Regions from separate parts of the Homo sapiens genome. Here region 2 is linked to region 1. The links come from fine-mapping of genetic effects on gene expression. A gene starts in region 1. The other region holds a variant in brackets. All regions are shown on one strand. Distances are between the middles of the regions.

Region 1 (9,061 bases):
TGTATTTCCAAAACTTTATACATTCTTTTCCTTGATAGTTGATCACACAATGAATATCTGGTTGAAGCCAAATACTTGCCACCTATAGCAAGCCTAATAATTTGTCTTTGGTGCAATACTTCTATTTTGCCAATAATTGAACAAAAACAAAAATTCAAGTCAGACAAAGATGATGAAAATGCCAAAACTGAACTGTTGCTTGCAGGCAGCATCAGCAGGAAAAAACTCAAAATGTTTACTCATCAGCTGAGATATGAATATCTAAATTCTACATTGCAAACAGTGTTGTATAAGTCAGTGTATAATGAATAAACGTATGGATTCAATAGTTGAGTACTGTCTACACCATAATAGCTTTTAGTGCTCAGTTTCTGAGTTAAAAGGTGATAAGAGGGTTAGTTTTTCACTTGAGCAACCCATTTCCAATGAGGAAAGAAATCAGATTATGTTTTCCTAAGATTTCCAAATGCCACCTGAAAATAAGAACCCCAGCAACCAAAGTAGAAGTATATTCTAAAACTTAGAAAGGTTTTTTCCATTATTCTCATTCTTATTTCAAATTTTGAGATAGGTTGAGAAAAATAGTTGCTTTCCATCTGGCTGTCCTTTTGCCTGGGGAAAGTTGTGCTGTCATGTTTTTAGGTCTGACAAGAACTTAATTGTGTGAGTGATCCATTCCAGATCTAGACATAACTCTCCAACCCAGAGACTCTTCAACTGTCACAGAATAGCAAAAGAACTATTTGACCTTTTGTTCTTGTCAGACTGGATCTGCCAGAAGCCTCCCTCTACAATGTTATATATTCATATTCTCTATAAATTGAATGTAGACATTGAAGCATGACTGAACAGGCATTGAAGATGTACTTGGTGAGGTGGATTAACTCTACCCATCTTTAAATCCGTTGCTTCAGATAATTATAGATGAGAGATGCTTATTTGGATTGGATTGCTATTTATTCTTATGTTTATTTTACTAAGTGGTGAGGCAAGAACACAAAAATGTACAGTTGAAAGACAGATTGGCCTGGGTTGATTGATAAGTAATGTGTGGGGTGTTTTGGCTTCTGATCAATATTTGTATTCAGTCTGCAATCTATGTATAATTAAAAAAACAGGTGAGAGTAACATCTGATTATAATTTCTCCCCAGTTAATCTTCAGAATTAAAAGATAGTAAAAGCGTTAAGAAAAGGGCAGAAAGCGGGCCGGGCACGGTGGCTCATACCTGTAACCCCAGCACTTTGGGAGGCCAAGACAGGCGGATCACCTGAGGTCAGGAGTTCGAGACCAGCCTGACTAACATGATGAAACCCATCTCTACTAAAAATACAAAAATTAGCTAGCTGTGGTGGTAGGCTCCTGTAATCCCAGCTCCTTGGGAGGCTGAGGCAGGAGAATTGCTGGAACTTGGGAGGCGGAGGTTTCAGTGAGCCGAGATGGTGCCATTGCACTCCAGCGGGGGGCAGCAGAGCAAGACTCCATCTCAAAAAAAAAAAAAAAGAAAAAGAAAAGGGCCCAAAGCAACCTTAATCACTGTATTGAAATGATTTAGTATGGCTTTTGTAAGAAAGTATTTTAAGTCATGGTCAGCATCCCTCCCTGAACTTGGACATTCTACTGTTGCCAGGAGCCCTAGATTGGCCTGTGATCAACTAAGGCTCCAGTTAGCTGTTGTGCAGTTTGGACCCAGCATTACCATAAATGGAGTCCAGCGAATTTCTAGCCATTATCAGCACACTGGATAGTTTCTGGGGGACCTTTATAAAGAAGACACCAGGAGTTTAGGTGGTTTTTAAACTGTCATTCAGGCAGCTGGTCATTGAATTAACATAGCTCATGACTTTTCAAAAATTTTCTGCTATACCTTTACTGTTCATAATTGTTACTAATAACATGACTATTATTTAGGCATTGCTTTACAGTTCACAAACATGTTTCATGTATCTTATTTTCTTAGTTATCAAGACAATACATTGTGGACTTTGTTCCTTTGTATCTTACTGGTCATGAAATTTATTTGGTTTATTTGTTATAAAAATTCAAAGTTCCTTTTGGGAGGCCAAGGCCGGCAGATCACAAGGTCAGGAGATTGAGACCATCCTGGCTAACACGGTGAAACCCTGTCTCTACAAAAAAAAAAAAAAAAAAAAAAAAAAAAAAATTAGCCGGGTGTGGTGGCAGGCGCCTGTAGTCCCAGCTTACTCAGGAGGCTGAGGCAGGAGAATGGCATGAACCCGGGAGGCGGAACTTGCAGTCAGCCGAGATCACACCACTGCACTCCAGCCTAGGCAAAAGAGCGAGACTCTGTCTCAAAAAAAAAAAAAAAAAAAATCGAAAGTTCCTAATACTGAGAGAAAGACTGCAAATAAAATTCACTGCCCTCAGCTTCCAGAGAAACCAAAAAACATAAAACCTAATAACCAAAGAATCTTGCATCTTAAGCCCCAGAGTTTACTGAATGTGTCGCAAAATACTCACCTTGACCTTGTTCTACCCAGGGTGAAGGGACAGGAGAATGTGAAGGAAGATGATGTTTGATCTCAAATACATTGGAGTAAAGAGAAACACTAAAAATGGGGTAAAGGATCCTAGACCCAGCAATGTACTTAAGCTCATTGTGCCTCAATTTGTTATCAGTTTATACTCACATTTGCCACCTTCCTTTTAGGATCATCTTTGAATTGTGGATAGAAAGATACATGAAAGAAACTTTGATAGGAATTATTAATATCTTCCTCGAAGTCACAGACCTTTGATTTTTCAAGGTAATAATCTGAAAATAGATACATGGTGAGCCTGTGTAACAAAGGTTTTTTTTCTGCAACAGGTGCCCATGTACACAGCTGGAACTGTATTTTGCCGAACCTGAGCCATCTACAACTGTGATTCTTTGATTCATAACTTTCTCTACACACTAGCTCAATAAGAATTGCTGGTTTGCCATTTTCCTAGGAACCTAGTTTTGAAAAATCTTGGAAAGAAGATAATTCTTCCCGTTTATGATATATGAACTACTCCCCTCTGTATTTCTCCTGATTCCTAGTAATTTACCTATTGTAGCTTCACTGAATAGGAACTCACTATCTTAATAGAGATCTTTTATTTATTTATTTATTTATTTATTTATTTAGAGACAGGGTCTTACTCTCTCACTCAGGCTAGAGTGCAGTGACGTGATCACAGCTCACTGCAGCCTCAGCCTCCCAGGCTCAAGTGATCCTTCTGCCTCAGCCTCCCACGTAGCTGGGACCACAGGCACAAGCCACCACACCCAGCTAATTTTTGTATTTTTTGTAGAGACAGGGTTTTGCCATGTTGCCCAGGCTGGTCTTGAACTCCTGGGCTCAAGCAGTCCTCCCACTTTGGCCTCTGAAAGGGCAGGGATTACAGGCATGAGCCACTGTGCCTAGCCTTATTTTTTGGAAACGGTCTTGCTTTGTCGCTCAGGCTTAAGTGCAGTGATGTGTACATGGCTCAATGCAGCCTCGACCTCCTGGGCCCAAGCAATCCTCAGCCTCCCATGTAGCTGGGATCACAGGTATGTGCCACCACATCTAGCTAATTTTTTATAGAGACAGGGTCTCACTTTGTTGCCCAGGCTGGTCTTAAACTCATGGGCTCAAGTAGTCCGCTTCCCTCAGCCTCCCAAAGTGCTGGGATTACAAGTTTGAGCCACCACACCCAGCCAAGAAGTTTTTCTCTCCTCAGAGAGCTCTGGTTGTTAGAAACTTCTACCTGAGAATAAGGAAACCTGTCTCTCTGTATCATGCAAATGGAATAAAATAGAAACACAACTCCTCCTGTTTTCCAGTATAGAACCTCTAACTGCTCAGGTGGACTGTCTGTCCTTCCCTGAAGTGCTGCACCCCTCTGTTATTCATCAGGTCGTGTGTCCTTATAATGGGCATTTCTATTGGTACATAAAAGCTTCCCTCTCCTGTTCACTCAGCTGCTACCCAAGTTTCCTGTGATACCAATCTTAGAAGAGCTTTCAAGTCTCCACTGCCTCCTTCCTATCTGCCTTACAGCCTGTGGTGGTTGCCGAAGAACTTTAATTACAGTGTCAGAGTGTTCAGGGACAGTCCCAACTCCCTTCATGTGAGGATTGCAGAAATGGGCTTGGATCGTATACAGACAGCGTTATGAGGCATTGCTGAAGAACAGTAAGTTCTTACACAGAAGTTGTCAACTAATATATGCATTTTCTTTGCCATACCCCAAGAGGCAGGAGCTGATTCCTATATAGTTAGGATATAGCTGACCAATGTTCTCTTTAAATGTAATTTCCATCTGCCACATTTTAAATTACAGGTTTTTGCATCAGGAAACTGTTGGGTCCAATTATTTGGTGCCTTGGAAAGGGCATTAAATGCATAGTGAGAAGATCCTGGTTTAATCTGACATTCCACTTACTAGGTGTAGAAGCTTGAGCAAGTTAATTAATCTTTGAGTCTGTATACCCAGCTGCAAAATGAGGATAATGCTTATCTTACAGAGTGTTGTGAAAGCAATGAAGATTGTGTGAAAGGGTTTCATAAACTGACAAGCACTGCACAAATGTAAGGTCCCCTAAGGAAAACCTTTTCAAAACTCAAAATCTATATGAACAGAGATACTTATTCATGTTGGGTGGAATGTTTTACAGCCATTAAAAATTGTAAGAGAAAATATATTGAAAAATACAATCTAAAATGGTGAGTTTGCAATTACAACAGTGTAAAACCTGTGTACATAGACTAGAATATGGAAAAAATGGATTACAGGGTAGTGGAATTGAGTGACTTTTGCTTTAAAGACTCTTAGGTATATTAGGTGTATTCAGTTTAGTTCAATAAACTTTTATTGAGCTCTCACTCTCCCAATCCCCGTGCTAGATTCTATGAGTGCTGAGACAAATAGGACATACTCCCTGCTCTCAGAGACTCCCATTCTGTACAGTCTTGTCAAAGTTTACTGTGTATGTGAATCACTGCGGAGCGTATTAAAAATTCACATTATCTTACTCCCACCAGAAGATCTGATTCAGTAGGTCTGTGATGGAACTAGCTCACAATTTACATTGTTTTAAACAGTCACCCTGAGTAATTCTAGTGTAAGTATTTTAATTCTGTACTGAGAAACCTGCAGTGAGATTTTAATATTTTTACACTAAACGGTAAGTAATAATTATACAAATCTGCTCATTGAAGAAGTTACCTGTTTTCTCTGCATGCTTGAGCTGGTTTTTATGTGTCTCTATCAAGGATGGGAAGGCCAGCCTGCAGTGATACCCCTTGGAACCCTTGCAGTGTAGAAACTACCACACCTCTCAACTTTTATCTCTTTTCCTCACTCCATTTCTCCCCACCACTTCTCCTAATGTTTTCTTCTTTCTATGCAAGTGTTAATCTCCCACTCTGGTTCCTTCTATGCCTAGTACTGTATCAACATCCAGGTGCTTCCCCTTCCTTTCTCCACCCCACCCCCCAGCCAGATATGTCAATTGTATTGAAAACAACTTACATCTAGTTTACTAAGTACAAACTTGTGCTGGTTAATGCTTCTCAAAAAGTAGGAGTGGGCTGTTTGTTGAGATCAACAATCATTTTTTTAAAAATCCGATATGGAAATTTTTGTGTCAAGTTTCACTGTCATTTAGTTCTTGACTGATTTTCTTCTGATGGGTTAGTAGCTCTCAACAGAAGATTTTAAAAGTCCCCTGCTCAGGTACCTGTCCTGCCGATAGAGCTGGGGTGTACCCTGCACCCTGACTCAACATTGCTTGTCTCCACATGCCTGTAAATGGGCTTGGGTGGCTTTCTCAGGCTACACACCTGTCACTTCTTAGTCACCCAGAATCAAAATATTAACAGCTCTGATCACATTTTCTGAACCTATGAGGCTTTATTTCAAGAGTGGTGACACTCCAAAATGCAGCTAGGATTTCCGCATTTTCACGTGTTAGTGTTGAAATCATTTTTACTTCAGGAAACCAAGGGTTGGACAATGGCTTCCAGACTTTCTCCTTTCGTTATGCTCCTTCAGCGCCTTATGCAAATACCGGTTGTCTTATGCTGCCATTCGTCTCCTCTGCCAGAATGTGAGGTCCGCGACAGCAGGGATAAGAATGCATTCATTTTTATATCTGCAGTGCCTTGGAGAGTGTCTGACACATAGTGGGCACTCATTTAGAAACCACCAATTGAATCATTAAGGTGACCAAAAACAGGGTGGGGGAAATACGTCCATCAGACAACAGGGAAATATTTCTTAAAAAAAAAATTTCCCAAAACTAGCTTTTCCCTCCTTATGTGTCTGAAATATCTCATAAAATTTTAAACTATCCCTTTCAGCACAAATCTGCCTGGAGCTGTTTCCTGAACACAGGACCAAAAGGCAGGAATCAAAAGTAGTAATGAGTTTAGTTATCTGTCTGTTACTGAAGGTGACTTCTAGGGCATCCTCCTGGCATTGCTTCTGGAATACAGTGACTTAGACTTATTCGGAAGAACATCTCTATGCTGTTCATCACATCGCCAGCACCTAGCCCTGTGCCTGTGCATAGTAAATGCTCAGTAAGTATTGTTGAATGATTGTATTAAATTGAGAAGAAATTCAGAAGCTAGTCCCAAATGAATTTAATTGCTCAGATTTTCAGTTAGTGGTTTTCCCCAACTTGCTCCCTTAATCTAGACAATTTTACTGCCTCCAAATTGAAGGTAGCTACTATTTATGTCATCGAATTTAACAAATGTTAACTTATGTCTATTCTGTGCCTATCTGTGGGCTACCCAAAATTAAACCTAACCTCATGTAGTTTCAGTCCCCATACAGTTGGTTCATAATTCTCAGTGCTCCCACAGTCCTTTGAACATACCTCTTATAACATTGCCCAAATACTACTGGAGATACCTGCCTATTTCTCTCCCCAGAAAGACCCTGAAATTCTGAAGAACCTAGTCTTATCTTGGTATTCCTATGCTGAACTTGAAGTAGTAGGTTCTCAGAAAATCCCTGCTGAGACTTGACTAACTTGTACATAAATAACCATTCCCTAGTAACATGTGTTTGAATAGAAATATATTTTGTATTTGAATAGAAAGAAACATATGGTTTTCTAAGTATATTCCTAATTTAAAGGGATACTAGGGGAAAGAAACAAGATTGGTTTTTGTGTCTCTATTAAACACCTTCCAAGGTGTCTTACTTAGTTATCAAACCTGTCCTTTTTCTGACAATTCCCCTACCCCTGTCCTGGCCAGTGGGTCCCTAGCAGACATCCTGGGGGCCAGAGCTTCCTTTGCTGATTGGTGTAGGGATGGACACCTGATCCCAAATAGACCAGTTTCACCTTCTCTTGGGAAATTGGGGTTGAGGACACTGGAGAGTCTGGACTGGTTGCTTGAGCCAGGAACACATAAACTTAGGAGCCAGTGGGTATAACCATGTACCCAGAGAGACAGAGAAAGCAGTCTTCAGAGAAAGAAACGAAGGCAAAATGTTCGGAGGTGAGGGAGACATGCAAAATGGATGCCTGGTTTTTGCCATGTTTATTCCCTGGTTGCTACTCTTTCTGAGGCCAGATTATTCAACTTTTCCATGGGTTCCACGGGAGATAACTCACTTACCATCTCCATTGGATCGTGAGTGAGTTTGAAATGAGTATCTGCTTTCACAACTAAAAGAAGTCAAATTAATATACTGTGTGACTTACAGAAGGAATTCTCATTACTTTTTAAGTCTCATTACCTTATAATCACATCTACATATCCCAGAATATATGTCAATCAGGAATTACTTAGATGGGAAATTCCTGATAAAATAAGATGCAGTAGGAGGGTAAGTGGCTTCTTTGCTTTTCAAATTTTTTAATAATCTAAGTCACAAAAACAGAAAGCAAATAAATGGAGGCTTATTTACAGAGGGGATTGGACACGTCAGACCTTTTTTGGAACCACACAATTGGATTTAAAAGATTTTGAAGAACCAACACATTTGGCAGCTTCCCAAACCATCTATTTTTGAAGATTCTGCTTTCCAGAACTGTATTAAGAATGGCCCTTGTCATGGGCGTTAGCTGTGTTTCAGGCTAGCCAAAACTAAAAACTGGAAGAGACTAAATAAGTATGTGTGCATGTAGAGCAGCCCAGACCCTGCAAGTGGACTGACCATAAACAATGATGGCCAAATCTATGAAAATAAGATAAAGACCTTGCTCTTCAGAAACAGTGCCAGATGTGTTCAGAGCTTTGTATACCACACTCTTTCAGCCCTGGTATGCCACACCGTGAATTTAGTGTTCACTTACAATAATCATTTTGAAAACATGCATGGAAAATACAGAGGAACTGTGAACTGCTAAAATCATTTGTCTGGTTCAGGAAAGTTTCAGAGGAAAATCTCGGGGCTTTTTCCTAGAATGTTATGAAAATATTAAATTATACTGATTGCTGCCAACATATTTTCTAACCATTCTAGGAAAAGAAAAAACAACAAAGTTTCCAGCTCTTACTCTAGATTGACACTGGACCTTGGAGATGCTTGCAGGTAATTTGACTGCACCTACTTTCCTTTTTTGGTTAATTGTGTTAAATGTGCCTCATAACTTACATTCCCGGTGAGGCTGTCATTTAGAAGGGGTGGGTGGGGGCTGAGGGGAAGCTGTTTTAATTCTGGCTTTTGTTTCAGCCACTAAATGTAATGCCACATGATTGTTGACCCAACAATAATCCAGTTAAAAAACAGTCTTCAGAGTTACTACATCATCAGAATTAACCCTGATTACATCAAATTATGTTGAAACAGACCACAGCTGTTTGCCCTGTTGAAGCAACTGCTTGAGAGCTCCTCCGGAAGATACATCTGGGTGTCACTAAGATACATTTTGGGTTTAGTTTTGTTTCTCAACACAAATGTAGGAGGGAAACAAACCCTGTTCTGCTGGGGTGCCTGGTGGGAGCTGAAAACCTTGTGATTCTCCAGCAGTCAAAAGTCATCTCAATTACCAAAGAGAAGGGAACCTGAGATCTTTTGTTTCAGTTTTCTATAGGAAGGATGTAAGAGGAAGGAAATTCAAATCT
Region 2 (9,061 bases), 220 kb before region 1:
TCTTAGGGTAACAACCTATGATATGAGAATAGAGGAAATGGGGTCATTCTTTCAGATTCGGATATTTATTATATGAGTGAGTAAATGGATGAGTAGAGAATGGATGACTGTATGAATAAACACCATAGCCAGGCCCTTGACAAGGCCTGGAGGAGGAATTACAATCAGTCAACAGCCATTTAATGAGCACTTCATATATACAAGATCCCAGCCTAAGCAGCCTCAGAAAACCTGAAGGTGTAAGACAGGACCCTTTGCTGATAAGCATCACCACTCAATCAGGGAGTCTAGAAAGATTCAGAAAACAGACTCTGTGATACTAAGGAGCATGTGCTCTCTGTCACTATTCCAGAAGCCTCGGCATCCAAGCTTGCTAGAACCCAGAAATCTCAGAGAGGTGGCCTGAGGCCCACCCAGTGGACTCAAGAGGCTCCATTAGCTTGAGCTCAGTCTGGCGTCTGAGACATTGCCAGTTTTACAGCAGCCAGGGCTCCAACACTACGGAGTGTGAGGGTGCAGACTGGATGGTACAGGAGCAGAATTCTGTTGGCAGCAGAATCCCATCAACACCCAAGAGTCTGGTCCAGACCCTGGAGGTGTCAGTCTAGGCAGAGGGGCTAGAGGAACAAGCAGGGCAAGGTGATAACGTGGCAGTGAGATGGACACAAGTGCCCTGGTGTCCACACTCGACTCACATGGGTTTGGTGGTGGGGAGAACCAAGCTCTGGGGGACACAATCTCATCACCTGCCCATAGCCATGATTCTGTGACAGCAGGACCAGCCCCAGCCCCCACGTCCTGCCCATGGCTAAGGTTCCTAATGTGCTCTATCAGCCTGTGATCTGGGCTAAAAACTCAGCGCCTCCAGCTGGCTTGGGGGTGGAGAGAGGGGGAGTACCCAAGTGCTAAGAAAGTAGCTCCAACAAAACCTGCTTTCCACGGTACCAAAGGAGAACTCAGGGAGGGCTGAGTGAAGAGAGGAAGGAACCCGAGAAAATTTCCTGGAAGAGGTGGATTTAGTGAGAAAAGATCAGGTGAGAGGAAAGTGTGTTTTTCATGTGGACCTGGGGGAGCCTGGGCCTCCGAGCCTCACTTCTGGAAACCAAGTCCAGTAAGCATGAAGCCAAAATTTCCTGGGGCTCCAATCCAGCATGTCTCCACTTTTTTCACACTGCAAAACCCACAATGGTTGATGTTTGATGTAGGACCCACTCCCATAGGTATGCCTAGATTTGCGATGACGTGGGTGGCGGTGATCTGCAAATCCCAGCACGCAGGAACACCTCTTCTTTTTCCCCCACTCATAAAGCATCTCAGAATGCAAGCAAGAAAGAGAAAGATCACGTTACAGGGACAATTCTGAAGGCATGCTAATTTATAGCAAAAATAATTTGCCAAGTAGTACTTTAGTATTCATAATGACTGACTCCTGGCCCATTGCTTCACTGTTTGTAGTAACACAAAGACCAGGAACAATTGCTACCTCCTTTTTTCTCCTCTTTCTGTTGTGGGTCAGGGAGTTCCCCATAAACAGATCCTGAGATAAGGATGTGTCTGAAAGTAGGTTACTAGGAAGTGGTCCCAGGGAAAATGGGTACACAAATAGAGATGAGGGAGAGGAAATAGGGAGGGCCGATCAAGGGTGTGAAAATCCAGCAAAGTTCCAAGAGAATAATTTTGGCTAAGTCCTGCAGGAGAGTTGTGGAAACATAACAAGTCACACCTGGGAGTTTTCCCCCTGGGGGCAGGCAGCTGGGCTTTTGACACCTCTGCACCTGCCAGTCATCAGTTAAGGGCTGCTCCTGGGACTGTCTTTACCCAGGCACTTCTGGCTCTCCGTGCACTCAGGCAAAATGAGCTCTGGCAGCCTGAGGACAGCCTGCCTACAAAGACTCCCAGGTGTTAGCTGCTGGGAATGAAAGCACACAGGCTTCATTCATTTCCATCCAAGAGGGTTGAAGGAGTCTCACAGCATCTACTGAAATCTCATATCCTACGCCGCAGTAGGCACCTAGTAAATGCTGGTTGCTTATTGGCTAGCAAAGGATGCATCCAAGAGAACAGGACACAATAATCACGTGCATTAAAGCTGACGCGGGGTGGGGGGACCCCACCTATTTGGTTTACCACCGTATCCCTGGTACCTGGCACAGGAACCTTGTACACAGGTTTGTTAGATAAATGATAAATGGATCTCCCCATGGTGATGTTGTTATCTGAGAGCTGCTCCAGGTCTCCCTAGTTCCCCCCATCAGTTCTTGCCTGACTCAGCTGATGCTGCCTGAGACCACAGAGCTCAGGAGGAGCTCACTGGGGCTTCATCACATGGTGACCCACCTCACTGAGCAAGTGCCACCCAACTGTTAGGCCCAACATCTGCCCTGTTCTCTCTAATCAGATGCTTTTGAGGACAAGCAGTGTGGCTCAGTAGACACGATAGGTGTGGGCTGCAGACCCAGTACTTCCTACATTTAATCTCATTTGAACCTACAACAAAATTCATGGTAGGTATTATTACCTTCCATTTTGCAGATGAGCTTTATAAGACCCAGAGATGGTTTGTGCTATTAAATGATAGAATCAGCATCAGTCCAGATTTACCTAACTCCAAGTTCTAGGCTATCGATCTTACATCTTAAAGCTCAGGAGTGAGGGAGTTTCTGATGTGACAGGCTTCATACATTGACATCTGAAGATGGACAACCACCTTTCCAGTGCCCAGAAAGTCACCCATCCACAGGCACAAGGCTCACCTGAGACTTCGCTCAACTCCAAATTTAGGGCTGGCTCCAAAGGCGTGCGACCTGTGTAGTCACACAGGGTCCTGCGCTTAGGGCCCACTCTTGGTTTAATGCTCTGCTGTTGCCATCTTGAAACACTTAATTTTTGAACAAGGTCCTGTGTTTTCACTTTGTACTGGGCTGTGCAAGTTATGGAGGCAGCCCTGTCCACACTGCTTACCCAGTGTGAACAAACTTTCAGCATTCTAGGACATTCTCAAGAACCTGAGGCAGAGGATGAGCCCTGGAGCCCCCCAAATGGGTGGGGAAGCTGTGGGCAGGAAAGCCCTTCCATACATGTTGGGTCAGGACTGGATAGAACCAGCCGAGACCTTCCCACCAGCTCCAAGCCAGGAAACCCCCACTCAGTGGTAAACATCTAAGTCCATTAAGTGGCAAAGACTTGGAGCACAGGTAAAGACTGTGGGGCACAAAGAAACTACAAACCTGTTCTGCCTAGGGGAGGATAAATCAGGAGAGGCTTCTAGAGGAAGGCAACCCCTTAACTGTTCAAAGAAAGAAATGAAGAAGAGCATTCCAGGTGGAGGGTGTCGTAGAGTTAAGGTACCAATGTGTCCTGCGGGTGGCTTGGCATATCGTGGGGGAGCCAGGGGAGGGGCCTTAAGAGTTAGGGCTGAACAGGTGGGCAGAGGCCAATCAGGTAGACTTGACTTTTCCTCCTCCTCCTCTGGTTTTCTTAAATATTCATGCACACACCATGCACATTCTCCTGGGTTAGTCTCCATTTCCACCCAAAATCTTGCCAGATGGCTGGGAAGCATTTATATGAGAAGCTTTATTTTCTCCAGCTAGGCGTTTATCTGCTCTTCCACTCTACTGTACAGGACAGGTGATGTATTAACACACCCCTGATTTCTTCACATTGATAACGCCACCTAGTGGCCACCTGTCACACTTTCCCATTCCTCCAAATTGATAGGCAGAAAAACATGGGTGAGATCAGGTAAGATCATGCTCATCCCTTGTCCTGCTCCTGTACTTCCTAGAGTTCAGACGACCTCCATAGGAGAACCCTTTCGACCTGTACAACAGTCCCAAGGTTCAGCAATGACTCTCAGATGATGCCCTAAAAGCACCTCACACTCTCACACCAGAAAGGAAAAGCAGGAAAATTAGCTCTAGCAGTCCCTACCTTCCCTCTGCTCCCTGGGCCAATGTGAAGAGGATCCTTCAGTTCTGAATGTGGTGCCCCCAGCACCATACAGACAACTACAGAGGCTGCTGCTGTGCCTGAGGTTGGAAAAAGGTGGACAAAACAGCACTCACGACTCATGGGGCTTGGAGAGATTTAACTTAGGCATCTTTAAACAATCAATGATGCTAACAGCAATAACAAGCAGAACAAGGAGGAGGAGAAGGAGCTATTTCTTGAGAGCCATTCCCTCTATCAGACAACCACACTAGGCCTTTTACACTTCTTCCTTGAATGCATTTTTGTAAGTTCATTAAATCTTTCCCACTGCAAGGAAAGCTTCAGATGGCAATTAACATGTACTGGGTGCCTACAATGTGTCAAGCAGTTTCCTAGGCACTTTGAATGCATTTGCTCATTTATTACTCACCACAGTACAACAAGAGAGGTACTGTTAGTATCCAATTTTCAGGCGGAGAGGCAGGCACTTGCCAAGGGCATGTGAGGTAGCAAGCAGATGGAACTGGGAGTTGAAGCTGAGCAACCTAGTTCCAGGCTTGCACGATTCATCACTACCCAGACTCCCTCCTAGGCTGAGACAAAAAGAAAATGTGTACACCCTGTCCTGGAATTTACTGGTCTACTTAGGAAGAGAGATATATAACTGAAGATCCATAAGGCATTCACTTATTTACTCATTCTGCAAACTTTCCCTCAAGGACATCTTACACCAGGTGTGGATGAGTGTGTAGGTGTTAATTCCCTCAGTCTGGTGGGAAGAGAAGCTAAGCCAGGTTGTACCTGCACACCAGTGATTCAGGATGAGGCAGCAGGCACTGGGACTCACGGGATGAGAAACAGAGTTTGGGGACAGCTGGCCAGGCAGTGCCCAAGCCCTGGTCTAATGGGGTCTGAAGAATACCTCTCTGCCCAGCAGATAAGGAATTCTCAGCAAACTGCTAGCCCTTATTATATCTAAAAAGCTCCACCGATTCTCTTCCTTTAGCTTTATCCCTCCTACCTAGGAAGAGAAGGTGAATACTGTCTGATGGGTGGTCAAGCAGGACCTAGCCTCTTGCAGCAAAAACAGAACTAGCTCTTCCTGGGTCCAAGGCTCCAGATAAACTGGCCTGAGCTGCCATCTACCGGCCAACTGTGCACACTGCAGCAGATACTGCCAAGGCCACCTTCTTGACCAGGTGCAGAGGGATGGAGGACTAAGGTGGCTGAATTCCTTAACTGTTAAGACAGGGGGAGGCTGTCATCTCCTAGTGTGTTACAAACAAAAGGAGACTGAGACTCTGAGAGGTGGCACAAGGTAGTAATCATTTCCATTGACCATTTGCCAGGCACTGTGAAAAGCACTTCACATTGCTCTTCTAATTGAATCTTAAGAATCTCGTGAGTACTATTACTTATCCCCCCTTTATGTGTTGTGTTTCTGAAGTCTCTCCATTCTATAATAGTTTT[C/T]CCTTCTTTTTAATGCTATTTATTTATTAAAGAAAAAGGTTATTTGTACTCCAGGATATCTCACAACCTGGATTTAGCGGCTAGTTCTTCATGGTGTCACTTTACTTGTTCTCAGGCCTCATAATTCCTAGAAGCTGGCATGTAGCACTAAAGGCTTAATTAAATTCAGGTTCAATTGTTTTAAGCAAGACTAACTCATAGGTACTTTCTATTACATCTAATGGGGGACACATAGTGTTTGATTATTCTACTTCTAGTGATAAGATTTGGTGACGTTAAATAAAAAAATGCTGACTTCTTAGTCTATTATTCCTTCATTAACTGGAACTCTTCTTTAAATAAGTAAAATATCCAAGTAAGTGGAGCAGTTAGAGAACCTGCACAGGCTGCATAGAGCAGCTATGTGGAGCCGAAAAGCAAATAGTGGCAGCCAGATTGGAGAAGAACAAAATTTGGAGGGCCACTGAACTGGCAGAATTCACCTCCCTTTTCCACTCTGGTATCCCCACGCCTTGACTCAGGTAGTTGAAAGTCCAGAGGTGCGCATCCAAAAGAAACCTCTATTTCACCTCGAGGAGTGGGAAGGGGCCCCCTGAGAGTGGCAGCATTAACAGCGGAGGCCCATAGACATGGGGGAAGCTTCTCTCTGATTGGAGGAGCGGGGGTGTCAAGAGTATGGGTGAACCTCCACTACATTTTCTCTCTGTCCTTTCACCAATTGGTCCTAGATGCAGGTGCAGTAGCTGCAGCAAGTGTGTGTCAGAGAGAGGCAAATAAAGCCTGAGATTTCTGGCTGGAAAACCTAAAATGTGGGCCTCAGGGCAATGAAAAATACCAAGGGAGATGGTGATGATGGAGAAGCTCAAGACAGTGGTAAAGTCGTTTGTGAATGCCCAGACTCATCCCTGAGCATCGCATGCATAGATCTGATCCTACGCAGTATGCCATAAACTTTGAGAACTGAACTCAGAAAAGAGTCCGTGGCTCTGGTCCCAGACTGCCCATTGGGTGGCACACATGCAGAACAGATTTGAATAGCCTGACAGTGTCTTGGAAAACCAAGCAGACATTGAAACCACAATCTATAGAAGGTTGGTCAAAACATGTTCTGAACCCAATCTAGTCAAATGCTTGCAAAAAAAAAAAAAAAAAAAAACTCTCCATAGAATTAAGATCCAGTGTTATAACATTTGAAGTAGTCAAGACACTTGGCCTATGAGGAAAATCTTAGCCAATACTGAGATGACACATATGTTGACCTTATCTATGAAAGACTAAAGCAGCAATATAAAAGTGCTCCAAAAGTGAGAAGGAACATACTTGAAACAAATGAAAGGTATGAAGTCTCAGAAAAGAAATAAAATATATAAAGAAAAACCAAATGAAAATCTGACAACTAAAAAAACACAATGACCAAAAGTTTAAACATTCACTGGATGGGCTCAATATGGCAGAATGGAGATGACAGAAAAAGAATGAATCAGCTTGAAGACAGACATTTTAAAATAGCCAATTTAAACAACACAGAGGAAAAAAGACTGGAAACAATGAATACAGCCTCAGGGATGTATGGGACCACATGAAAATGTCTAATTGTGCCATTTGAGTCAGAGAAAGAGAAGAGACAGTGCAGTGCAGAAAACATGCTTACAGAAATAAAAACTGAAAACTTTCCGAATTTGGAGAAAAACATAAACTTACAGATTCAGGAAGCCCCGGAAACTCCAAGCAAGACAAATTCAACGAAATTCATTCCTAGACATTATAACCAAACTACTGAAATTAAAAGCAAAAGAAAAAAAAAGAGAATGTCCGGAAAAAAATAACACATTACTTATACGGAAACAATGATTCAAGTGACTGTGAACTTTGCATCAAAACCCATGAAAGCCAGAAGACAGAACATTCTAAAGTGCTCAGAGAAAACAAATGTCAACTCAGAATTCTAAGTCCAGTGAAAATAACCTTTAGGAATGAAGGTAAAAGTAAGAATTCACAAATGAAGTAAAACTAAGAGAATTTTTCATCAGCAATCAGCTCTGCAACAACTGCTCAGGGAAGTTCTTCAGACAAAGGAAATGATAACTGGACAGAACTCTTGGAACATCAGGAGCTGGAAAAGAGCAACAAAAAATGATAATTGTGTAAACATGACAGATTATTCTTCTCTTAAGTACTTTAAAATATGTTTGATTGTTGAAAGTAAAAGAGTCTGAAAGTAAAAGAGTCTCAAAGGGTTTCAATACAGAGGAGGGAGGGTAAAAAGAACTACATAATAATCTTTCTACATTCCACTTGAAGTAGTGAATATTTCTTATTATTTCTGAGCAAAAAATTGAGAACATCTATTCCAATCTCGAGTAATGACTAAAAGACATATAGTAAAAACACAATAATTTAAATACAAGAAAAAAATGTTCAAAGAACCCAAAAGAAGACAGAAAATGAAAAACAAAGAAAAAGCAAATAACAAAATAGAAGGCCTAAATACAAAGATGTCAATAATTACAATAAATACAAATGATTTAAACACATCAACTAAAAGAGATATCAGGATAAAAATATATGACCCAACTATATGTTGTATTTTAAAAATCATCTTAAATATAAAGCTATGCATAAGTTAAAAGTAAAATGATGGCCTAGTACCGTGGCTCGCACCTGTAATTTCAGCACTTTGGGAGGCCAAGGCGAGCAGATCGCGAGGTCAGGAGATTGAGACCAGCCTGGCCAACATGGTGAAACCCCGTCTCTACTGAAAATACAAAAATTAGCCAGTCATGGTGGTGGGCACCTGTAATCCCAGCTACTCAGGAGTCTGAGGCAGGAAAATCGCTTGAACCTGGGAGACGGAGGTTGCACTGAGCCGAGATCATGCCACTACACTCCAGCCTGGGTGACAGAGCAAGACTCCATCTCAAAAAAAAAAGAAAAATGATAAAAATACTGTGAAAACATTAATCAAAAAGCCACAGTGATTATTAATATCAAACAAAGCAGACTTCAAAGCAAATTACCAGAGATAAATTATCACGATAAAAGGGTCAATTCACCAAGAAGATGCAACAAACTTAGATGTGCATGCATTTAACAACAGAGGTTCAAAATGCATGAAGCGAAAACTGACAGAACTGAAAGAAAAAATCAACAAATCCACAATTATAGTTGGAGAGTTCCACATGCCATTTTTAGTAATCAATAGAATTAATGGACAGAAAATCAGCAAGGATATAGAAGAACTGTACTAAACCATCAACCAACTAGATTTAATTAACACTTATATAATACTCTGCCCAACAACAGCCAAATGCACATTCTTTTCAAGTGCACGTGAAACATTCACCAGGATAAACCACATCCTGGGTCATAAAATAAGTTTTCACAATTTTAAGATAATTGAAAGAGTATGTTCTCAAATCAAGAATCTAAACTTTCTACCCTAAGAAACAAGAAAATAAGAGCAAAATTAACAGAAAGCAAGCAGAAAAAAAGGAAATAATAAAGAGCAGAAATCAAATAAACCAACAAAAATATTGAAACTTAGTTATTTAAAAAGATGAATAAAACTATAAAACTTCTAGTAAGACAAAAAAGGGAGAAGACACAAATTACCAATATTAGGAATAAACAGGCTATCACTACAAATCCAACAGAAATT

Direction of the effects. Positions count from the first base shown, and alleles are read on the strand shown. Sizes are in standard deviations (SD) of each study's normalised expression.
For the expression in sigmoid colon of the gene that starts at base 4,029 in region 1, T is the low allele of the variant in region 2 and C is the other (moderate effect, 0.65 SD a copy in GTEx).

What was found. PIP is the estimated chance that this variant, and not a neighbour inherited with it, causes the effect.
Region 2: its variant is fine-mapped to the expression of LINC02728 in sigmoid colon (GTEx, PIP above 0.99).

The regions. Positions count from the first base shown.
Region 1 is chr11:78,424,804-78,433,864 of GRCh38, reverse strand. It overlaps LINC02728 (long intergenic non-protein coding RNA 2728), which reads left to right and starts at 4,029. Exons shown (of 4, transcript NR_120564.1): 1 at 4,029-4,165; 2 at 6,335-6,556; 3 at 8,460-8,528; 4 at 8,670-9,061. RefSeq lists an enhancer at 6,551-6,750 and a silencer at 7,156-7,321.
Region 2 is chr11:78,641,414-78,650,474 of GRCh38, reverse strand. No RefSeq gene overlaps it. Among named protein-coding and RNA genes, the nearest start is that of NARS2, 71 kb to the right of the region's middle. The variant C/T (reference allele first, on the strand shown) is at 5,404.